7 linked regions of the Homo sapiens genome follow. The protein of the gene in region 1 purifies or fractionates together with the protein of each later gene. This does not show direct contact. Each region holds a gene or a part of one and is shown in the gene's direction. Other genes may lie near its edges.

The links.
Region 2: the proteins of WAC (region 1) and TLN1 fractionate together in Homo sapiens (co-fractionation; one large-scale study listed by BioGRID). This does not show direct contact.
Region 3: the proteins of WAC (region 1) and RBM12 purify together in Homo sapiens (affinity purification with mass spectrometry; 2 studies listed by BioGRID and IntAct, with this or other methods). This does not show direct contact.
Region 4: the proteins of WAC (region 1) and TPM2 purify together in Homo sapiens (affinity purification with mass spectrometry; one large-scale study listed by BioGRID and IntAct). This does not show direct contact.
Region 5: the proteins of WAC (region 1) and WASL purify together in Homo sapiens (affinity purification with mass spectrometry, with the first as the bait; one large-scale study listed by BioGRID). This does not show direct contact.
Region 6: the proteins of WAC (region 1) and WIPF1 purify together in Homo sapiens (affinity purification with mass spectrometry, with the first as the bait; one large-scale study listed by BioGRID). This does not show direct contact.
Region 7: the proteins of WAC (region 1) and ZC3H13 purify together in Homo sapiens (affinity purification with mass spectrometry, with the first as the bait; one large-scale study listed by BioGRID). This does not show direct contact.

Annotation. Positions count from the first base shown.
Region 1 is NC_000010.11:28,606,118-28,609,617, forward strand, and holds part of WAC (WW domain-containing adapter protein with coiled-coil), read left to right. Parts: intron 1-2,068; coding exon 2,069-2,314; exon of another isoform or gene 2,315-2,325; intron 2,326-3,500.
Region 2 is NC_000009.12:35,698,822-35,701,195, reverse strand, and holds part of TLN1 (talin-1), read left to right. Parts: intron 1-819; coding exon 820-1,005; intron 1,006-1,114; coding exon 1,115-1,222; intron 1,223-1,734; coding exon 1,735-1,840; intron 1,841-2,039; coding exon 2,040-2,164; intron 2,165-2,262; coding exon 2,263-2,374. UniProt on the Homo sapiens protein: High molecular weight cytoskeletal protein concentrated at regions of cell-matrix and cell-cell contacts. Involved in connections of major cytoskeletal structures to the plasma membrane.
Region 3 is NC_000020.11:35,651,663-35,654,900, reverse strand, and holds part of RBM12 (RNA-binding protein 12), read left to right. Parts: coding exon 1-2,377; 3' UTR 2,378-3,238. Other genes in the region: CPNE1 (copine-1), read left to right, coding at 1,359-1,373.
Region 4 is NC_000009.12:35,687,126-35,691,181, reverse strand, and holds the start of TPM2 (tropomyosin beta chain), read left to right. Parts: upstream 1-1,256; 5' UTR 1,257-1,364; coding exon 1,365-1,478; intron 1,479-1,910; coding exon 1,911-2,036; intron 2,037-4,056. UniProt on the Homo sapiens protein: Binds to actin filaments in muscle and non-muscle cells. Plays a central role, in association with the troponin complex, in the calcium dependent regulation of vertebrate striated muscle contraction.
Region 5 is NC_000007.14:123,707,504-123,711,003, reverse strand, and holds part of WASL (actin nucleation-promoting factor WASL), read left to right. Parts: intron 1-1,780; coding exon 1,781-1,915; intron 1,916-3,500. UniProt on the Homo sapiens protein: Regulates actin polymerization by stimulating the actin-nucleating activity of the Arp2/3 complex. Involved in various processes, such as mitosis and cytokinesis, via its role in the regulation of actin polymerization.
Region 6 is NC_000002.12:174,591,305-174,594,804, reverse strand, and holds part of WIPF1 (WAS/WASL-interacting protein family member 1), read left to right. Parts: intron 1-3,500. UniProt on the Homo sapiens protein: Plays a role in the reorganization of the actin cytoskeleton. Contributes with NCK1 and GRB2 in the recruitment and activation of WASL.
Region 7 is NC_000013.11:46,042,747-46,046,246, reverse strand, and holds part of ZC3H13 (zinc finger CCCH domain-containing protein 13), read left to right. Parts: intron 1-730; 5' UTR 731-739; coding exon 740-856; intron 857-1,182; coding exon 1,183-1,292; intron 1,293-3,500. UniProt on the Homo sapiens protein: Associated component of the WMM complex, a complex that mediates N6-methyladenosine (m6A) methylation of RNAs, a modification that plays a role in the efficiency of mRNA splicing and RNA processing.

The DNA of each region.
Region 1 (3,500 bases):
CACGGCTTAATGCAGCCACGACTTCGTGGCTCAGGTGGTTCTCCCACCTCAGCTTCCTGAGTAGCTGGGACCACAGGCGCAAGCCACCACAGCTGGCTAATTTTTTGTATTTTTAGTAGAGACGGGGTTTTGCCGTGTTGCCCAGGCCGGTCTTGGAAATCCTGGGCTCAAGCCTTGCAAAATGCTGGGATTATAGGCGTGAGCCACCACGTCCATCTGACAGCAGAATTTTCGCAAGGAAAACATTTATCGTTTTATTTGAGTTTCTTTATGCTTGTCTATGAATCCAGAACAGTAAAGCTGAAAATAATAGGCAGTCTGCTGGATTCAAGCACCTTCCTTTAAAAGTGTATACCCTTACGCAAATAAAAATATCTTAGTCCTTCTGAGTTCATCATGGTTAATCAACACATTTTTGAAATGTACTTAAATCAGCTGTGAGATCCACACTTTAGAGAGCTATTATCCCTAGTTCTTTCGACCATTATAGTAGTGTAAAAAGACTCATAGGGGAGTCTGTTTTCAATAAGCTTGCTAGTACTGTATATATGATCTTGAAAATCTTAAAGAAATAGGTTGTTTCTAGTTTTATACTAAAAGCAAACAGAGTGCTGTTGTGATAGTCTTTGAATTTTCTCCTGATTTACATATATCTGAGTTTCACTGAGGGTGTGTACCTAAAGGGGAATTACTGGGTCATGTAGTGTTCGTATCTTCAACTTTTCTAAATAATGCCAAATTACTTTCCAGTGTGGTTATATCAATTTATTATCCATCAGAAATGTTGAGTAAATGTTCTCATTACTCTTTGCCAACATTTGGTATGTCTGACTTTAAAATTTTTGCATTATGGTGAGTGTAAAGGGTTATGTTGCTTTATTTTACATTGTCCTGATTCTGAATGAAGTTGAGCATCTTTTCTTGAATTTCCTAGGCATTCAAGTTCCTTCTTTGAAATAATGTCTTCTGTACATTTTTCTATTGGGCAGTTTGTCTATTTTGACGTATAGAAATTCTTTAAATAGTCTGATTACCACTACTTTGAATATAATTGTTCTGCTTTTTGTAACTTTACACATCTGCTTGGTGTTATGGATACCTTTCTGTGTTTTCCTCTAAGAGTTTTAAAGACTTAAATACCTACACAAAAGTTCAGTCTACCTTTAACTGGCTTTGTTTTAAATGTAAGTTTTTATATTTGGCAGGGCATGTCCTGCTGGCAGTGTTCTTTTTCTTCAGGTTATGGAATCTTCAGGATTTATGTTACTAGCTTGTCAAATAGTATTAACAGTGCTCTTGGGGCTTTGATTACAGTTACATTAAATCTATATAAATAATTGAAACAACAGCTTTCAAATAATTTTCCATGCGTATTTTATACATCCTTTATTTCTAAATACTATGAGGTGGGTTGTTTTTAATATTAAAGTGTCCTTTTTAATAATCTTAAAATGAAACAAATAGCTCATTGCCTTATATATTGAATTACAAAAGGGAAGTATGTAGTTACAAAACTCAGTTATTAAGTATAAAAGTCTCTTCTCATCACATCTTTAGCCCATTTTGGGTGTAACCACCTTGGTGTACCTACCCTGATTTGTATTAAGACCAGTGTCTTATTGAGGTAGGTTGTTACTGTGGCCATAAACATTTTTCACCTTATTTCATGAGATATAAATTAAATCCTGTAGAATTATATTGTCCTTTTATCCTAATGGAAGCTTATTTGAATGTGTGGTTAATAAATAATTATCTTTGAGATAGCATTGGTGGTAGACAGATTGGTACTTTTCAAATCAGATATGGGTATGATTTACCAGGTTTTATGGCTTCAGGTTATCTAACCTTTCTTGTTCAGCTTTCTTACCTATGAAATAGGGTGAGAAATGTCTAAATCATTATTCTAGTCATGTGAATGTTTACTGAGCATCTTCTGTGTGCTCCAGTGTGTAAGGGTTAAATGAGATTACTTACGTTAGGTGCCTGGCACATGAGAGGTGTTCCTTTGATGTTTGTTCCAATTTTCTCTATTCAGGTAATTTTTCAGGCTGATTATCTTTTTATTTAGAATCTACATCAGGAGACAAACCCGTATCACATTCTTGCACAACTCCTTCCACGTCTTCTGCCTCTGGACTGAACCCCACATCTGCACCTCCAACATCTGCTTCAGCGGTCCCTGTTTCTCCTGTTCCACAGTCGCCAATACCTCCCTTACTTCAGGACCCAAATCTTCTTAGACAATTGCTTCCTGCTTTGCAAGCCACGCTGCAGCTTAATAATTCTAATGTGGACATATCTAAAATAAATGAAGGTAAATCTTCATAACAGTTTTTTAAAAATTTATTTGCATTGTGCAAAGTTATGTAAGTAGTAAAATCCCCAGTTTAGGAATGGTCTTTGTTTTCTTTTGAAATTTATAGTTGAACACTTTTTTTTGTTTTGTTTTTTGTTTTTGGAGTTTGGAAATTTATATCCACTGTAGTTTAAGACCATTGGTAGTATAATTGAGTTAGTGGTGCTTGGATCTTGTGTATATTTTTCAATACTTGTTATGTGTCTGGTAGTTACTGGAGGTAAGCCATTCTATATACATAATGTGTATGGTGAAATTTTACATTAAAACAATCGAGCGTTTGTTGAAATCGGTATTAAAACTTCTGGTATGTTTCTAAAAAACCTGTATAAATAATTACTCAGAATATTTAAAATATGCTAATTACTAGAAAAGTAGGAATTCAGGTAGCTACTTAAAATACTTTCAAAAAATTCTGAGAAGGGAGGAGATAGGTACTAGATAAAATGTTGCCATTTTTTTCCTGGTGAATTGCATTATTTAATTCCAGCCTTGCTTTTCAGTAATGCTACTTACGTTTCAGAATATTTAGTCAGCCACTTTGAAAAAGTATGAATAAAAGTAGATGTGTTAATTTGGAAACTATTCAGATTCACACGTTAATTCCTAAAAGCACTGCAAAATTTTCTGTTGAAAATGATAAATTTTTAGGCCGAGGCGGGTGGATCACCTGAGGTCAGGAGTTTGAAACCAGCCTGACCAAGATGGTGAAACGCTATCTCTAATAAAAATACAAAAGTTAACCAGGCGTGATGGCACATGCCTGTGAATCCCAGCTACTCGGGAGGCTGAGGTACGAGAATCGCTTGAACCCAGGAGACGGAGGTTGCAGTGAGCTGAGATGGTGCCTGTACACTCCAACCTGGCTGACAGAGCAAGACCCCATCTCAAAATAAATAAAAATAAAGTGATCAATTTTTATGTACATTTTCACATAATATACTTAAAAGTAGTGTTAAGTGGTTAAGTTCTTATCCTAAAAATAAAGCTATCTCAGGCTAGTTGGTCATTAGTCTGTTCTTACTGTCCTTAATTTTTTTGTATTTTTATTTTATTCTCTAACCACGCAGTTCTCTTGTGTGGTAGGTAAATGTTTCATTTAGGCAAAGTGGGGCTTTTAGATAGTTTGAGGAGGCCAGATGCA
Region 2 (2,374 bases), on another chromosome or scaffold:
CCTGCACCATCAGTTCTGAGAACATGCCAAGCTCTTATCTGCTGCAGGCTCTTCCACTCAGTTCTCTCCAGCTTTTTGAACACTGTGCTCCTTCCAGTTCATCAGGCTTCAGCCTCAATGTCACCTCCTCAGAGAGCCCTTCCCTGACCACCTATTTGAAGTAGTTCTCATCACAGCACTGTCTCTATTCTCTCATAATCCAAATCACAGTCCTCAGTTTTGCTGCTTGTTTATTTATTTATTACCTGTGTCCAAAACCAGAATGTAAGCTCCATGAGAACAGGGAGCATCCCTAGCCCCTTGCATAGAATCTGCCACCTAGCTGATCTTTAATAAATGTTTGCAGATTGAACCCGTACATCAAAATATTTTATGACTTTCACATATTATGTAAAAGTCCAAGTTCCTCGGTGTGATATTCAAGTCCCCAATAACCTTTTCTTCACCATTCCTATATTCCAGAACATTCCTTGATACTTTCCGATGTGACATCTTGGTTGTTCATGTCCTACCATTTACCTAAAATGCCCTCCTATCATCTGTATATCTTTTATGGCCTAGCTCTGCCTCTCACCCCTTCAAGGCTTCTCTCTATTTTGGGAATGAAAACCCAGCCAAAAGCCACTTTTGTAATTACTTTTGTGATTTCAAACAAACAAACAAACTCCCCAGTTGCTTCAGTCAGAAACAATAACCAACTGCCTTGTTACATTCACTGTGATGTGTGAATGTCTGCACCAAATCACATGCACACAGAGTTCTACGCTGTCTCATAGTCTCAGCCACTGTAAAATCTTTCTTCTTCTTCTGCCCCCACAGGTTTTCTGTTCCCCAGAGCCACCTGCCAAGACCTCTACCCCAGAAGACTTCATCCGAATGACCAAGGGTATCACCATGGCAACCGCCAAGGCCGTTGCTGCTGGCAATTCCTGTCGCCAGGAAGATGTCATTGCCACAGCCAATCTGAGCCGCCGTGCTATTGCAGATATGCTTCGGGCTTGCAAGGTAGAAATCCTTGAGGCATTTCCGTGAGGCAGCTTTGGGCCAGAACATAGTGGGAGAGAAACTGTAGGGATCTGCGGGGCCTAAAGCTAACATATTACTCTGGGGACAGGAAGCAGCTTACCACCCAGAAGTGGCCCCTGATGTGCGGCTTCGAGCCCTGCACTATGGCCGGGAGTGTGCCAATGGCTACCTGGAACTGCTGGACCATGTACTGCTGGTAAGGGAGGGCGTTGCTTGTTCCTCATACCAGCCTCCCTGAATACACAGCCCTCTTCCTGCAGGCCTCGCACCCTGCTGTCTGTTTTGCTCAGATCTCCTCCCTACCCCACCCTCTACTTCCCAAATCTGTTCTCCTTTCCAAGTCTCCCTTTCTCCCAGGCCCCATCCTTCTTATCATCTTTGGTTCTCCCAGTCACCTCTTCCTCTTCCTCTTTTTCTTTTCTCCTCCCTTCCCACCTGACCACCCCCTTCTCTACTTTCGTCGTCTCCTCTTTCATCTCATCATTCTCCTTGCTCCTTGTCAGCCGGTGAGTGACACAGCCCCACTGTCTCTATCACGTGTGAGGTGTGATGCATGATGTGTACTTGGATAGGCAGCGTGGAGTTTGAGGGCTATGGTGTGGAGTGCTCTAGGGATAGGGGTGAGGGGGCCATGGTCTGCCCTATTTCATAGATCAGGGTAGACCCTAAGATGTGATGCTCTTTGTCCCCTGCCCGCTTCTTGCCCAGACCCTGCAGAAGCCAAGCCCAGAACTGAAGCAGCAGTTGACAGGACATTCAAAGCGTGTGGCTGGTTCCGTCACTGAGCTCATCCAGGCTGCTGAAGCCATGAAGGGTGAGGGGTGACCAGGGACAGGGACGGATGGAAAACCCTTATCATGGTGTGATCTCTGCTTCCTGGCTGGACAGCTCTGTGCTAGCCTCTGACCATAGTCCCCACAGATGCCAGGGCCTGATGATACTAACCATGCTCCCTGGTGCTTTTGACCTCCCCACTCTGCCTTAGCCTCTTTCCTCTTCCTTCATCCCACCAGGAACAGAATGGGTAGACCCAGAGGACCCCACAGTCATTGCTGAGAATGAGCTCCTGGGAGCTGCAGCCGCCATTGAGGCTGCAGCCAAAAAGCTAGAGCAGCTGAAGCCCCGGGCCAAACCCAAGGTCAGTCCTGCTCCCTTCCTCTTCCACCCTCACCATGGCAGTGTCCCCACCTTCATCTCTGACTTTACATCTCTTTCTGCAACCTTCGCTTATTGCAGGAGGCAGATGAGTCCTTGAACTTTGAGGAGCAGATACTAGAAGCTGCCAAGTCCATTGCAGCAGCCACCAGTGCACTGGTAAAGGCTGCGTCGGCTGCCCAGAGAGAACTAG
Region 3 (3,238 bases), on another chromosome or scaffold:
TGAAAGCAACAAAAACATACAGACATTTTCCACAGCCAGCGTAGGAACAGCTCCTCCAAATATGGGGGCTTCCTTTGGGAGCCCAACGTTTAGCTCAACTGTTCCAAGCACAGCCTCTCCAATGAACACAGTCCCGCCGCCACCAATTCCTCCAATTCCAGCGATGCCATCTCTGCCACCAATGCCATCCATTCCCCCAATTCCAGTTCCTCCTCCAGTACCTACATTGCCTCCTGTGCCTCCTGTGCCCCCGATTCCCCCAGTTCCTTCTGTGCCACCCATGACCCCACTGCCACCCATGTCGGGCATGCCGCCCTTGAATCCGCCACCTGTGGCACCTCTACCTGCTGGAATGAATGGCTCTGGAGCACCTATGAATTTGAACAATAATCTGAATCCTATGTTTCTTGGTCCGTTGAATCCTGTTAACCCTATCCAGATGAACTCTCAGAGCAGTGTGAAGCCACTCCCCATCAACCCTGATGATCTGTATGTCAGTGTGCATGGAATGCCCTTTTCTGCAATGGAAAATGATGTCAGAGATTTTTTTCATGGGCTCCGTGTTGATGCAGTGCATTTGTTGAAAGATCATGTAGGTCGAAATAATGGGAATGGATTGGTTAAGTTTCTCTCCCCTCAAGATACATTTGAAGCTTTGAAACGAAACAGAATGCTGATGATTCAACGCTATGTGGAAGTTAGCCCTGCCACAGAAAGACAGTGGGTAGCTGCTGGAGGCCATATCACTTTTAAGCAAAATATGGGACCTTCTGGACAAACTCATCCCCCTCCTCAGACACTTCCCAGGTCAAAATCGCCCAGTGGGCAGAAAAGATCAAGGTCAAGATCACCACATGAGGCTGGTTTTTGTGTTTACTTGAAAGGGCTACCATTTGAAGCAGAAAACAAACATGTCATTGATTTTTTTAAAAAGCTGGATATTGTGGAAGATAGTATTTATATAGCTTATGGACCCAATGGGAAAGCAACTGGCGAAGGCTTTGTAGAGTTCAGAAATGAGGCTGACTATAAGGCTGCTCTGTGTCGTCATAAACAGTACATGGGCAATCGCTTTATTCAAGTTCATCCAATTACTAAGAAAGGTATGCTAGAAAAGATAGATATGATTCGAAAAAGACTGCAGAACTTCAGCTATGACCAGAGGGAAATGATACTAAATCCAGAGGGGGATGTCAACTCTGCCAAAGTCTGTGCCCACATAACAAATATTCCATTCAGCATTACAAAGATGGATGTTCTTCAGTTCCTAGAAGGAATCCCAGTGGATGAAAATGCTGTACATGTTCTTGTTGATAACAATGGGCAAGGTCTAGGACAGGCATTGGTTCAGTTTAAAAATGAAGATGATGCACGTAAGTCTGAACGCTTACACCGTAAAAAACTTAATGGGAGAGAAGCTTTTGTTCATGTAGTTACCCTAGAAGATATGAGAGAGATTGAGAAAAATCCCCCTGCCCAAGGAAAAAAGGGATTAAAGATGCCTGTGCCAGGTAATCCTGCAGTTCCAGGAATGCCCAATGCGGGACTGCCCGGTGTGGGACTGCCCAGTGCAGGACTTCCCGGTGCAGGCCTGCCCAGCACAGGACTGCCTGGTTCAGCAATAACCAGTGCAGGACTGCCTGGTGCGGGAATGCCCAGTGCAGGAATACCTAGTGCAGGAGGTGAAGAGCATGCCTTCCTGACTGTAGGATCAAAGGAAGCCAATAATGGGCCTCCATTTAACTTTCCTGGTAATTTTGGTGGATCAAATGCCTTTGGGCCACCAATCCCTCCTCCAGGATTAGGAGGCGGGGCCTTTGGTGATGCTAGGCCTGGTATGCCTTCAGTTGGAAACAGTGGTTTGCCTGGTCTAGGACTGGATGTTCCGGGTTTTGGAGGTGGACCAAACAATTTAAGTGGGCCATCGGGATTTGGAGGGGGCCCTCAGAATTTTGGAAATGGCCCTGGTAGCTTAGGCGGTCCCCCGGGGTTTGGAAGTGGCCCTCCTGGTCTTGGAAGTGCCCCTGGGCATTTGGGTGGGCCACCAGCTTTTGGGCCTGGCCCCGGCCCCGGCCCCGGCCCTGGCCCAATCCATATTGGTGGTCCCCCTGGCTTTGCATCTAGTTCTGGAAAACCAGGACCGACAGTAATTAAAGTGCAAAACATGCCCTTTACTGTGTCTATTGATGAGATTTTAGATTTCTTTTATGGCTATCAAGTAATCCCAGGCTCAGTGTGTTTAAAATACAATGAAAAAGGTATGCCCACAGGTGAAGCCATGGTGGCCTTTGAGTCTCGGGATGAAGCCACAGCTGCTGTCATTGACTTAAATGACAGGCCTATAGGTTCAAGAAAAGTAAAACTTGTATTAGGGTAGCCATTCACATCATTTTTTATAGGGTAGATCTTCATATTGCTGTGATTAATGCATCCAGATTGTTTTCCTAGTATTTCCAGGTTAGAACCTGTGGATTGTTTCAATTGCATATAGCTTGGTTTCCATAACATAGAGCATTGGTTGACTGTTTACAGAAGACTCACTCACCAGGATAAACATTGCTGTATGTTACAGTAAAGCTATCTGGAGAGAACACATAAATGATTTTGGCATACCATTAGAGAAACCATTTGTAAAACTCAAATGACCACATAAAGCTTATCAAGGAGTCTAGATTGGTTTTGTTTTATACCATATGGGATGAAGAAAATAGAAATGTCAGTAGAACTCATTGAGGGTGCTCTTGCCAGCTGCTGAAAATAGAAGTTGGCTACTCTCAGAATTTGGTTTAAAGCTGGACAGATTTGCTTTGTTATAGGGTAAAGCTTTGTCTAAAGTCCTCATTTTCTTTTAAAATTGAATAAAATTTCTGTATACAGATTCATTGTATGTACCTTTATTGCTTCTTAAGGGTCCTTGCTGTATAGACAGTCCTGCTTCAGAAGTTGCTGCTTTGTTTGTCTAATTGACTCATTTGTAAATGAGCAGAACTGTTTTGTTGGTTTTTTTCCCTAAATATAAAAGTCCACACTTCGTTTGTGCTATAACCTCAAACTTTGATTTCTAATGTCACACTTAAAACTGTGTGGAATAAGACTTTTGCCATAAAAATAAACTATGGAGTCCTTTATCTACCAGAGCCTTTTTGGTTTGACCGCCACGATTTAGGTTAGTCAGTTTAAAAATTGTTCATGTTGTTTGGATGGTATCGAAAACCAGAAACCACTTTTAATAATGTGT
Region 4 (4,056 bases), on another chromosome or scaffold:
GCTTGTTCTCTCCTCCCCTTCCCCCTCCTCCCGGCGGCTCTCCACTTCCTTTCCCCCCACCCCACCCCAGGGAAAAACGAAAACAAACACCCTCGCGCCTCGCGCCTCCGACTCCCAGACCCCACGACCCGGCTCCGGCGCTGGTTTGGCGGCCTGGGTGGGAGAAGGCACCTCGCCCCGGACCCCCTATGCCCCGCAGCTCAGTGACTCTTCCCCTCGCCCTCCGCCTTCCCCGCCGCAGCCCGGCTCCGCCTCCCAATGGGGAAACATCCCAAAAAAGGGCAGAAAAGAAATTTCAGCATAAAGTTGGCCCACTGGGAAAGAGAGGAGCGTCCGCGGGGAGCGGGGGAGAAGAGGGAAGGCGCGCGGAGGGGAGTGGGGCCAGGCGGAGCCAGGGGCGGGGAGCGGAGGGGCTCGGGACGCGTCCGGGTGGGAGCGGGGGCGGGGAACGCGCGGTGACCAGCCTGGCCGCAGCCGCGTGGAAAATATGCGGGGCACGTGGGGGGCGGGGCGGGGAGCTGGGTCCTGAGCCGCCGGGTGCTCGCAGGAAGGGCCTGGCTCCAGGGGCAGGGGCTGGGAGGGGAGGCGAGGGGATGAGAGGTCAGGCCGGTCCTGGGGGCAGCAAGCCCGGCCACACTCCCCACCGCGACCGGGGCTCTGGGCTCGCTTCCTGCTTCAGTTTCCCCAAGCTCCCGATGAGACTCCGCTACTACCACCACGTCGATAACGCAAACCTAGAGGGACTCAGGGTAAACTGAGGCACTCAAACTGCCGAGGAGCTCCGCCTCCCGAGAGACATTTAATCCGGGGGGATTTGCAGGAAACTTCTAAATTAAGGGTAGCGGCTGCTGCAGCTGAGGGGGGGCACGCCGGTCCCTGCGCCCGGGCAGCTGCCGTGAGCTCACGCCCCGAAATAGCCCCAGGGGCCCCAGCCGCAGCTGCCACTGGGTCCGGCTGTCACTCAGAGGAAGCACGGAGCCCCCAGCCCAAGGGTCCCCTCCCCTTCGCATCGCCGGGGTTTTTCCAGCCGACCGTCGGCCACTTTTTCCTCCGACGGCTGGCAGGGAAGAGGGGGATGGGGGCGGGACCCCAAGGGAGGCGGTCCCCAGTGGGTGGGCGAAGGGGGCGGCCGCACCCCCCGGCCGGGCCGTGCTTCTGCCCCTACAAGGTTTGGGCCGAGGTGGGGGAGGGTCCTGGTTGCCGGCCCCGCCCGGTCCCTCCCCGCCTTTTAGGCGCCCGCGTGGCCGGGACGTCCCAGTCCCGCTCCGTCCTCCTCGCCTGCCACCGGTGCACCCAGTCCGCTCACCCAGCCCAGTCCGTCCGGTCCTCACCGCCTGCCGGCCGGCCCACCCCCCACCGCAGCCATGGACGCCATCAAGAAGAAGATGCAGATGCTGAAGCTGGACAAGGAGAACGCCATCGACCGCGCCGAGCAGGCCGAAGCCGACAAGAAGCAAGCTGAGGACCGCTGCAAGCAGGTTAGGGCCGGGCCCAGTGCAGCCTGCTCTCCCCGCGCCTAGGGCAAGGGTGGGCCGCTGCCATGGGTCCCCCAGCCCCGGGCCTGCCCGCCAAGGCTCTCTCTCACCCAGGGTGGGGGCTGGGCCTTCGCAGTACCCTCAGGGCCTTCGCCAGAGCCGCTTCTCTCCCCTACAATAGCCTGGGGAAGCCCCAGGCCCCTGGTTTCCACTCTGCCTTTGCAGAGCGCGGTTGGTCCTGCTCCTTGGGGCCTGAAGTTTTCTCTGTACCCTCAACGGGTCCCACCAGTACCCTTGACTGTACTGTCCCTTTTATGTTATTCCGCTTCCATCCCAGTAGCCTCCAAATCTTAGTAGCGCCCCTACACACACCGCGTCTCCATTCTGGGCCTGGGCCCCCTCCCAGCCTGGCTGACCAAGTCCCCTCTGTCCCAGCTGGAGGAGGAGCAGCAGGCCCTCCAGAAGAAGCTGAAGGGGACAGAGGATGAGGTGGAAAAGTATTCTGAATCCGTGAAGGAGGCCCAGGAGAAACTGGAGCAGGCCGAGAAGAAGGCCACTGATGTGAGTGTGGACTTGGGGGACAATGGGAGGAGTTAGGGCTCTGGGAAGGGGCCCCCCGGGTATGGGAATAAGAGGATTGGGGCACCTTATCCCCTTATGTCCCCAGCGCCAGGAGAGAAATGGTTTCATCTCAGTAACCAGGGCTAGGGTAAACTTACACAAGTAATCCAAGACAGTGGATAAATCAAAACCACCTACCACTTCCCCCAGAGGACTTAGCCCTGTAATTCTGTTTGGTTCCAGCTTTTAGAATGTACAGTGATCAAGCAATGAGTCATTGTGGGGGTGGAAGGTATAAGAATTTACCATCTACCTCAATTAATCCTCCAGCTGAAATTGGAGAGGAGACTGCAGCCGTTTGGGGATGGGGGGATGTGGATGTGAGGTACTAGCCTGCAGGAGGAGGGAGAGGGATCCAGAGATGAGACCCCACTTGAGTTACAACCCTAAGGGGCCATTAGAAATTCCCTGGCCTTGACCTCTGGCTTCAGCAGCCCTGCTGTGCCCTGGGGCCCCAGCTCAGGTTCTAATGGCTCCTCATTTACCCTCATTAAGCTGTCAGCCTGGAGACCATGCCAGGCCACAGGGCAGAGGGACAGGGCCACAAATGCCAAAGCAGCTACCTTGGCAGGTCATTTACCCTGAGATTTCTCTGCCCACCCCACAACCCCAACCAGACTTCACTTCCTGCCATTCCCAACCCCCAGCTTAAGGTAGGAGAATGGCCATATGGCTTTGGTGTGGTGGTAGTTTCCCCATTCTCTGCCTCAGTTTCCCCATCTTCCTTCCACCCAGGATTGTTTTAAGATGAACCTATGGTTAGATTAGCATAAAGCATGGTCTGAACATCAGAGATGACATAGCTGTTTGTGTCGACTGCTCATGTTCCCAGCCCCCCAGGGGTTGGGCTTCTGTGACCTCCAGCCTCCAGTTTTGGTTCTCCACCAGTCCTGGCACTTGGGAGGGAGCTGACCTGCAGCTGCTAGCACAGACAACCCTGGGCATCTGACACTCTATAAATAACCAAGGCCCAGTGCAGCTGGAGGCAAGATTGGAAACCCAAGTTGCTGGTGGGGGCTGGAGGGGCAGGGGGGACAGGGACAGAGCTGGGGAGGCAGAGCCGCAGCACCAGGAGCAGATAGGAAAGACTGCCCAAGCTTCCTGGTGACCTTGAACACAGCACTCAACTTACATGGTGCCTCAGTTTCTCCCTCTCTCTTGCTTCCCATTTTTCTAATGGGGACAGTAGTGCCTGTCCTGTGGTTAGAGAGCCGCCCCCGTAACTGGGAAGAGCTTGAGAGGCAGGAAATGGCACATATCAGTCCCATGATGAGGACCCCAGGACTTCCCAAACTTTCCAGAGTCTTTTGTCACCCCACCATCATGCAGAGTTTTTCTTTTACAGTCTCACCTCTCTCTAGGGTAGTACTCCAATGTCCCCCACAGTGATTCTTCCCAACCCCCAATGCTGTCCCCAGAATGCTTCCACACTGTCATCCGGCCCTGTGCCCATGATGGGCTCTTGTCACTCTAGGTGGCCAAGCTCCAGGTGCCTTCAGCACCTGGAAGACAAGCTACCATCTACTCTCTATATATGGTGCTGTTTCTCCTGCCCTACAGTCCGACCAAGGACCTGCTTCCTATGCTGTGTCCAAGTGCTGCCCCCAGCCCCTCCCCCCACCTCCTTTCCCTACACAGGTCCTCTCTCCTTTCCACTCTGAAATCTCAGGGTCTCTGTGTCCTTGTTTTTGACAGAGAAAGGGGATAACCTAATATTTATGGAATGTGGACCCTGTGCAGGCAATGTACTCAGTGCTTTCTGCATGTTATTTTACAATTTCCCAAACTTGGCTTATCATCAGAATCACTCGGGGGCTTTAAAAAAAAAAGAGAAGATTCCCAAGCCCCCGCCCTACACATCCCAATTCAGTGGATCTAGCATGGAGTAAGAGAACCTGTTTAGTTTTATGAGTCTCACCGAAGGTCCTGTTGATTAACTGAGTATTAAAAGCAGTGGATT
Region 5 (3,500 bases), on another chromosome or scaffold:
AAAAAGACTTTATGCGAATTCTCCTTAGAACTAACAAATTGCTTGTTTGATTTTTGCATTCTTCAGCCTGGTATTTGGTACCTTTAGATAGTGTATGCAAGACGCATTTTTCTGAAGTTTTCAGTGCTGGCAGCAGGATGCCTGTGGCACTATCATCCTGAGATTGTGCACTTGCAAACACAAGTGTGTTTTGAGCAGGCCAAAAAGTGTCCCACATTCTTCAGTCTCCTCTTTGAAACCCAGTGTCCCAGGATACACATTTTTTGTTTTTAAGTTATCATAATTTTTATTGACTCTTGCAGAAATTTTTCTGTTCCTTTGTGTCCTACTCAGTACTGTATGTGAAGTTCAAGGTTGAGTTTGGTCTGTAATGTTAAAAACATAACATTGAACATTGTTATCTGAGCAAGTCTTTATGGACTTTTGATCCTAACAGTATACTGATCTTACATTTCTGAATTTAGTATCTAATTATAAAAGATTTGTGCATATAATTGTTCTTTGAAATTCCTCTTACCAAAAAAGGGCACCCCTCAGGCATAGTTCAGTAAACCTAAAACAGCATATCTTCAAATCTTAATGTAGTCTATTTTTTATTACAGAGCCCAAATTCCGTTGAACTAAGGTACCATAATTACTTAATCAGCTCCTATTTTAGGTTATTTCAGTTCTTCCTCTTTAAAAAAATATATATTTATATGAAATATTTTATTTTTATATTTATATTAAAATATGAAGTATTATATTCTAAATGATTTTCTTAATTTCTAGTTTAGAAGTGAAATTACTTTATCAGAAAACATAATTATGGCTTTCAGAGGATTTGTAAGTGCTTTATCAGTGTAAGTGTGTATCACTTTCATAGAAACTTAAGGTTGAATAGTTACATTCTAGGTTATAAAGTAAACTTAATTTAGAATAAAATTAGTTTACACCTTTTCATGATATAGTCTTGAGGAAGGGGGCAACATGGTGTACTGGAAAATCCTAATGCCCTGAAGTGTCCATTGCATGTAACGAGTTAGCTTCCCTCCTATACATCTGAAAGGGTTCTATTTAGGGACTATCCTTGGTAAAATTGAGACAATAGTCACTCAAATCTTTTTCATATCCTCAGTATAGCATTAAAACTGCGTGGCCACTTGTGCAAATCACTTACAATCTTAAACTCACTTTAGAAAGGAGATACTATAATCTGCCTTCCAGGGTGGTAATACTGCTTTCAAGTTTGTCTCAATCCTTATCTAGATAAGTGCTTAACTGCTTTATACAAGTCAGCCATTACTAATGCTACTACTTCATTGCTTAAGTGTTCACTTTATTGGGAAACAGTGTAATAGGGGGAGTAAGAATGCTAGATTTGAAGTCACAAATTGCCTGGATTTGGAATTTCAGCTCTGCCATTTAGCTGTGTGGTATTGGGCAAATTAACCCCTTTAGTGTCGGGTTTCTCAAGTAAAAAATGAAGTTATCATAGTAATAACAAATGAGGCTATATTTAAAAGTGATTAACACATTTCCTAACACATTTTAAGCATCAATAAATGTTTTCAGTAATTATTGTTATGTGATTATTGTATTAGTTATTTATTACTACATAAGAAATTACTTCAGAAACTAGTGGCTTAAAATAACAATACATGTTTATTATTTCCTTGTTTCTGTGAATCAGGAATTTAGGAGCAGCTTAGCTGGGTGGTTGCGGTCAAGCTGTCAGCAGGGGCTATGATCATCTACATATTATTTTGAACCTAATGGTTATAAATTTTATATTTTGCAGACTATGTCTTCAGCAGTGGTGCAGTTATATGCAGCAGATCGGAACTGTATGTGGTCAAAGAAGTGCAGTGGTGTTGCTTGTCTTGTTAAGGACAATCCACAGAGATCTTATTTTTTAAGAATATTTGACATTAAGGTGAGTTTTGTTTTGCTTTCACTTTAAACTAGGTGATTAGGTTTTCTATATCAATTATAATTTAGTTTAGATTTGTTTATCCTATATGTGATATTTAAATTTATACATAAACTAATATTAGAAGAGTGAAGCTTGGTTTTTAGATATTGCATACGGAAATCATGACCAAATGGGAACATGTCTGAAGCCAGAATGTGAATAGTTTCCTATTTTATCTTTCTCCTGCTACCACGCATTAAGGCTTTTTTTTTTTTTAAATTATGCCTGTTGGTTCTTGGGCTTTCTTTACACTCTGTATTTTTTTAATGAAACTCTTTTATTCCACCTGGTTCATTATAGAATAGCGTAGATAGTCTGTTCAGGTAACAACAAAATAATATTTTAGCTCAGTATGTACTGTTATTTAGCCCAGGTTTAAAACATTTCAATATCTATAAAAATCTGTTTGCTACTCATTTTTCCTTATATTGTTTCTCATGATAGATATATTCAGATTTTCATAGCTTTATATCCCTCCCTTCCAATCATAAATCACATTGTTATAGATTGAATACCTTGTTAGGTATTCATTTCTTACAGTTGTCATAAAAATATTTTGCTAAGATGAAGTCTCCATTATTTTTTTAAAAAACCTTTCTGTAAGTAAGCCTCCATGATTAATATTTATATGTGGCAATAAGTGCAATGAGATTTTAATTACAAAAAACTAAAACTGCCTTTAAACTCTTGGGCGCTAATATGACCTGATAGATAACAGTGAAGAGATTTTTACACCTCTGGTCTCAGCTTTATTTGTAAAATCAGATAACCATCTTGGTTTGTTATGAGGTATTTCACTGAGATTAAATGAGATCTCAGTTATGGTATTTGGTAAATTAGTGCTTCTTTTGTTGTTGTTGTTGTTGTTTTGAGACAGGGTCTTGCTCTTGCTCTGTCACCCAGCCTGGAGTGCACAGCTTACTGCAACCTTGATCTCCTTGGCCCAAGCAATCTTCCCACCTCAGCCTTCTGAGTAGCTGTGACTACAGGTGCATGCCACCACACCTGGCTAATTTTTGTATTTTCTTATAGAGATGGGTTCTGCTGTTTTGCCCAGCCTGGATTCAAACTCCTGGACTCAAGTGATCCTCCTGCCTCAGGCTCCCAAAGTGCTGGGATTACAGGCCTGAGCCACCAGTCCCGGGCTAAATTAGTGCATCTTAATGTCTGCTTCCAAGACAGCTGAGAGATATGACATGCTTCTGTCACTAGCAGTGGCTTACTAGTAATCACTAGCAGTGGCTAACTATGGCAGTGATTCTGGGGGGTGGGGAACACATACGTAGTTTGAAAGAAACCCCCAAGTGCTTTGACATATTTCTCATAACCATTGAGAAGCACTATTTAGAAATGGCATACACTTACTACTCCACTAAGAAGAAAGGGATTCCATTGCAGTGGTTATAATGTGTGAACAGTGTATTTTACATATTTTTAAATTGTGGTCTAGGTAGAACCTTGCATTTCTGAATAGGGCAATGACTATCTTTCTCTAACCACTTATTTCCAATTGCTGGACACTCATAATTCGTCACCTTTGGTATTA
Region 6 (3,500 bases), on another chromosome or scaffold:
CTTCTGCTTATATCATAAAGCTGTACTTTCAATGATAAAATGAATACAGTATATATCAAGTGTGCTGACATATATGCTGTGTGTGTATGTGTGTGTGAGAGAGAGAGAGAGAGAAAGAGAGAGAGAGAAACAGTGGCACATCTTAATCCTCTGGTAGAACTAAATGTGGTGATAGCGATTTAGGCAGATTTTAGCTTGGAGATTTGAACCCCTTAAAGAGATGGGAAGTATGGGAGAAAACCTGCTACTCTTTAATTATATGGATAAAATAAAAATGTTTCCTTTCCCTTTCCTTCAGTTAAATAATGACAGGTAGGCGTGTCATTCAGCTCACCTTCATTTTCTCACTATTAAAAGGGTCTTCGATGTCTGTGAATTTGTATTAATTTTAAAATTAAATGTGCACAATAGTGGATTAAAAAATAATTTTACTTCATAGCAACCTTTATTTCCCTAGCAGTACTCTTGCAGTAAAATTGTGTCCAAGCTCCTAGCCAGTCTTAGTGATGTTCGAGATGCTTCAAAATGTCTTCTTTGAAAAACACCTTTCCTACTCCCCGCCAAAATAAATCACCTCCTTATCTAAAAGAACTATAAAAGAAGCATTTCTAGGTTCAGCAGACTTAAATTGACATTTACCATTAAGAAGACAACCTAATCAGACGTTGCTGAAGTATTGTTTTTCAATGATGATTGACTGAGAAAAGAGCAGTACATTTTGAGAAATGAGGGATTCTGTGTATGGCAAGCGTGTGCTCCACATTCAGCTCAAATGGAGACTAACAATGCATAAGAACCAACTGGGTGAGGCTGCTGATTTGCTAATAAAGCTGTTTTCCTCTTCTCTGCCTTTTGCTTCCTCTGGAGTCCAGCTGCCTTTTCTGTTTCCCCTCTTGTATCCATGGCTTATTGCTCTGAGCAAGGACCTTCAGCTTGGAGAGAGGAAGAGTAGCAATAATAGAAACGAACCTTTCTGCAAAGGTATTGAAAGTTTCTAAAATGGCCAGACCACATGCTGGGGGGAAGGGATGGTAGAGCTGTTGCAGTGACTCGCGTCATAAAATAGAAACTCCAGGCAACTGCAGCTGTGAAAAGATTGTGTTAAAGAAACAGGATGACTGTGGTTTACTGCGAGCATCAATTTTCCTGTTGAGCATTTTTTACAGGAAGTTGAAGAACAAAGCCAAATTCATCTTAATTAGTTCTAATGGTTTTCAGATCTTAAATACATCCAGCTAAGTTTGCATCATGGAGGAGTATCTAAAGAATAGAATCAAGAATAATTGAGTAGGAATCCCAAAACGACATGCTTTTTAAAATTCACCGTCTTAGCAGCAATTTGAGTTTGCTCGATGATTTTATTTTTGCAGGGTGACTTGGAGTGGATTCACTGTCTTTGTAATGAATGCCCTTGCAGTTATTTTTTATGGTTGTAATAACTCAATATGAATTTAAAAACCTTTTCTCAGGAAAACACTTTTGTGTTACATGTATTATAAATTTTGTTCTGTTAATATTTTTTTGTCAAACAATTGTGTGTATATGTGTATGTGTGACACAGAGAGAGAGAGGGAGAGAGAGAGAGATGTACATGTACTTATAAGCTGGAAGGACATGTATCAAAATAACAAAGAGTTACCTCTGGTTATTACCCCCAACCCTTTTTCATATAAAAATTAATTATTATTCAGTGCTTCCTTTAGTGGTTAAATACAACTTCAGTGCTTTTTTTTTTCATCTTTGTATATTTTTGTATTCTCTACAATATAAAAGAAAAAAAAGAAATCTTGAAGAAAACAACAACAAACAAAAAACTAACCTGAAGATGCCAAAAGCACTCAAGAAATACATAGATGAAAATGAGTTAAGAGCATTATATATAAAGTAAAATATAAATGAGTTCAGGCATGGTGGCTCATGCCTATTATCATAGCATCTTGGGAGGCTGATGCGGGTGGATCACGTGAGGTCAGGAGTTCAAGACCAGCCTGGCCAACATGGTGAAACCCCATCTCTACCAAGAATACAAAAATTAGCCAAGTGTGATGGCACACGCCTGTAATCCCAGCTACTCGGGAGGCTGAGGCAGGAGAATTGTTTGAACCCAGGAGGTGGAGGTTGCAGTGAGCCAAGATCGTACCACTGCACTCCAGCCTGGGCAACAGAGCCAGACTCTGTCTCAAAAAAAAAAAAAAAAAATCAATAAATAAATGTAAATAAAAATAGAAAATAATGAGGGCAAGAGAGCAGTTGGATTTTTGAATCTATCCAGTTATATTATTTCTGATACCCTCCCCCACCCCCAGCAAATAAAATATTCCTCTATTGATTCAATCTTTTTGGGGAAAAGAAGTTTAATATTCCACCATTCATTTTAGGTATGATAGTATTTAAGGGTTACTTTTAGCAACATTTATAGAGCAAAATGCTTTATATTTTTGAATAGTCCAAATTAATGATAAATGTAATTGGATAAAGCTGCTTCTTATCTTCTCTAATAGAACCCCTGCCCACTTGGGATTAGAGACCGGCCTTTGGAGGATTGTCAACTGTGTTCACTGGGGACTATTAGGAATCACTCCCCACCTCATGTCATTCTGTAGTGTGGGCCCTAGGCAGTGCAATCTAGAATTAATTGTAAGTTGGCTATGAAACTAAGAAACAGCTTATTTAAATAACTACCCCACTTTCTTGATCCCAAGGAAGGCAATCATTTTACATTCAGGGATGAGTCTGCTTTCCTAGATGAGCACATTGAAGAAGAAACCCTGAGTTTCCTGGGGCACGTCTGGACTGAACTGTGAGCTATGGTTGACCTCTAGTTGGCCATGCCATTGAGGAGAATGTGTCCCCTGTACTGTTGGGAGTGGGCTGAGCAGTTCTCTTTCTCTCACAGTGCTCGTTGTAGCGAACATTGCATGTTTAACAAGTGAGTCGAGGCTGCAAGATGCCCTAGTTGATCTGGGATCAGTGAATGTTGTCTAAATGTAAGTGTTAAACCATGATGTTGACCTAATAGCATTCTAGTAAGACAAACGATGCCAGCCATTTCATTCACAGAATGAACTAGGAAGTCCAGAATTTCTAAATGTTGGGGTGGTGTGTGTGTGTGTGTGTGTGTGTGTGTGTGTAAGCAACAAAGAAGAAACAGTAATTAAATTTTTAAAGTCATTTATGCAAATTATTTCACTCTGTTCTCTCAACCCATAAAGCCAGTTCCTTACGAAAGGGTTATTGCTAGATCCCTCCCCTTACTTCAGCTATTTTCACCTAAAATTTCATTATTTTTGAATGATTCATTCACTTATTAAATAAACCTTTGGCAGTCACTTACATACTCTAGGGTTCTGGCTGATTTTTAAATTTTTTAACGTATGACAATCCAGAAATATCTTGCTGAGAAATCAGTTGATGGATAGTTTATTCAAAGGCCATTATCTTATTGTTTCCACAATGGATAATAGACAAACGTATGTTGTTAAAACCATGTGTATTAATTT
Region 7 (3,500 bases), on another chromosome or scaffold:
CACCTTTGAATTTTATGTCAGTGTAGTATAGATTATAGAAACACCTCGACTTTTTCTAGTTCTACAGTCTGTCCTGTTTTGAAAGTTGTTTCTATCAACATTGAGTTTTGTTTTGTTTTGTTTTTGTGTTACTGGAAAATAAATATGCTTGATCAGATTGTTTTGACTTCTGTCAGGCAAAGAAAATACTAAAATATCATTCATTTTTCTCAACCTGATTTTTGGAACATAACTGCTGTTGTCCCTTAAACTTATGAAACATAATTTCTGCTATGAAAATTTTCACCCAATTTTATTTTTCCATTTTCTTTAGCATAACTCTTTTTCAGTTAACCAGTTGATGGTTAACAACTTTGAGTTACTAAATTTTGAAGCAATTTTTGTAAGTAACTTTTATAAAGTAAACATTTTGTACTGTATCTTCTGAGGTTGATTGTACTATGAAAACTTCACTGTGTGAGTAGGATCATATTCGTTCACTCTGCAGAAGAGGTACAATTCTAGCCAACAGATCTCACAGCTGTTATAAATTCACCAGTAAGGCATGTTTTAGAAGATATTATCTCTGTTTACCTGTGACCTCTCCTATGCTTTTTTTTTTTAATCTCCCAAGGAAAATCTCCTGTAATTTTACACTGTTACCTATAGTTTTATCTACTTGTAAGCTGTGGGCTCAGTTATTTAAAACTGAGGAATTTTACAGTTTTGCCTCTTTCTTTTTTGGTTGAAGTAGTACAAAATGTCAAAAATTAGAAGGAAGGTCACAGTGGAAAATACCAAGACTATATCTGATAGCACATCCCGAAGACCCAGTGTATTTGAGAGGCTTGGACCCAGCACTGGCAGTACAGCAGAGGTGAGTTGTCACTAGTATAGTCACAGGGGTTCTCTTAGAATTCTATTATTGAAATGCTTATTTGTATCATAAAGGTGAACAGGTTGTTTTATTGTAGGAATGTTTGTTCAGTAAATTTTTTAAAGTGTGTTTTATAAAAAGAAGTGAAAAGGGTGATAAGGTTTATGGGTTTTTCCATATTTTTTTCCTGAAGTTTTTATTATTTGGGGAGTAATATATCACAGGTTAGCTGGAATTTTGGTAGCATTTGTTTTAATTTTGTCCCGCTAGCATTTTTTTTTTCCAGAAATAAATATGAAATTTACATAGTAATATCTGTCTCTTAGACACAGTGCCGTAACTGGCTGAAGACTGGCAACTGCCTCTATGGAAACACATGTAGATTCGTACATGGCCCTTCACCTCGTGGTAAAGGTTATAGCAGCAATTATAGAAGGTAAACTGAGAACTTTGTATTGTTCATGTACTATTAGAAGATGGCTTTTGTAATTTATCTAGTATAAAAATCTGAAATACAACCATATATTTGGTCAGATTTTCTATATTGGTGGTAGTCTTACCAGTAATTGAAGATCGACAGGATCTTTTTGTTATTTTCAAGATTAATAAAATGTTTGCTTTCAAATTAACTTATTTGTTCATTATTTATTTGTTTTGACAGTAGATCTTTTTGTAGTATGTGTATGGCTTACTTTTTCCCCCCTAATTATGTATTAAATTGCTGCTTAAGACAGCAGAATTCCATGGTGTCTGAATTTCTTTTTAGTGAGGCTATTTTTAACTCTTAAAATAGTAAAATTCAAATAGGGTATAATTTTAGCTGTTTAAGATGTTCTGAATTCAAATTTTGTACAAATTCTATAGGTTAAAATGCATTTGCCAAATCCCTTAGCACAGTATGTTAATGAAAATATGTATTTATATGTGGATGAATATGCTCCATATTTCGAACATCGTTTTGCCTTTAATAAAGGCTTGGCTAGATTAAACTTGCTTAATAAAGACCTTTTATTTTTCTTTTGGTTCCCTCATGATGATTATTTTATGGTATTTAAAGATGTAATATACATAAAGTTTGTCACAAAAACAGTTTTAACTTGATTGGTAAAGAAATAATTTACCTAGATCCAAAATTGGTTACACTGATTGTTTTGGCTATAGCATAGCAACACTATAAAAACTGAACATTAGCAATTGGAATTTTTTTTTTTTTTTTTTAGTTGAATGATTTTTTTGGGGGTAGTGTATGGGTAGATTTTGTTTAGGAGAATTTAAAATTCAAACCCTCAACATTAGCCAACTTCTTTTTCACGTAAACATTGTACATTTTAGTTTATTTGTGATTCTGAATACTGTTTTATTTGTATTTAGATTGTCATTTGTCACTTCCGTTAATGTGGGAAGATTAGTGTTTATTGTATATGTGTGTTTACTTGTATATATACACGTAGATACATACCTGGTGAAACTATTTCGATACTTTTAATGTTTTGCTTTAATACTATACTTTTGATACATTTTAAAATTTATCTTTGAAATTTATTAGCTGACTCAGAATTTTTATTCAAGAAATCATTTTGAGAAAAATGGTCAGAGAAATTTGTCTAAAATGGGAAAAAGTAATGTCATTGCTAGACTTAGAATAAAGAATATTTATTATAATTTTGCTATTTTGTGTATGATTTTCCATCTGATAACTTCTTTCGTATTTGTGCATTTTTTTTGTCGGGAGGAAAAACATAGTTCATAATGCGAGTCAAAGATAAGAAAAGCAATGTATTTTACAGAATGCTTATTTATATGTTTATATACAAGACTTTTACATAATTAATTGAGAATTCGCTGTGTGTAAAACATTCATTCTGTTGGGTGCTGTTTAGGATAGAAACAAGTTCATACTAAAGTGTTTTATTATATAAAGGAAACCAGGGCACATAGGATTTACATGTACATCATTATAATTTAGAGCACTTAAGTACTGGTTCTTAGTAAGAGATTCCAGTTTCAAGTTTAGCTTTAACTGTTAAAACATTTAATATAAATCTATTACATGTGCATGTAAACATTAATGAGATCCTTTAAAGTGAATTAACTCAAATTATTTCTTTACTAACCTTATGATTTATATTCATAAAATCAAGGAACTGATTTGATTGCCCAATGACTGCTTGAAATAGATGTGAATATTTATGTGATTTGTTTATATCTTTTTTATATATAGTACTTTTTGGTAGTCAAAGAGGAACAGAGCATTCCTTAACTTCTTTTGCCCTGTTTTAAAGGTGTTGTAGAAATAGTCTTTAAAGGCAGTCTGTTTTCCATCTCTCCTTTGTTTTTTCCCACTGATAGTGAAAATAATTGCATAGCCATATACTGTCAAATTTCTAGTATAAATAATAAAGCCTTACCACTGTTGAGTATAAATATGTATTTTTCCTTTAGTTAAAAAATTTACAGCAGAATATGAAAATCACTGTTGTAAAATTGCCTTGAATCCTTTATCTTTATTCTGAAATAATTTAAAATTTAAGATAAATTTTAAAGCTCCTATATTTGCTTTGATTCTTACTTAAGGTACATAAAATATTTTCTCAGTTATTGATGTTGCATCCAACCACAGGCATGTGTATACAAGAAACTTATT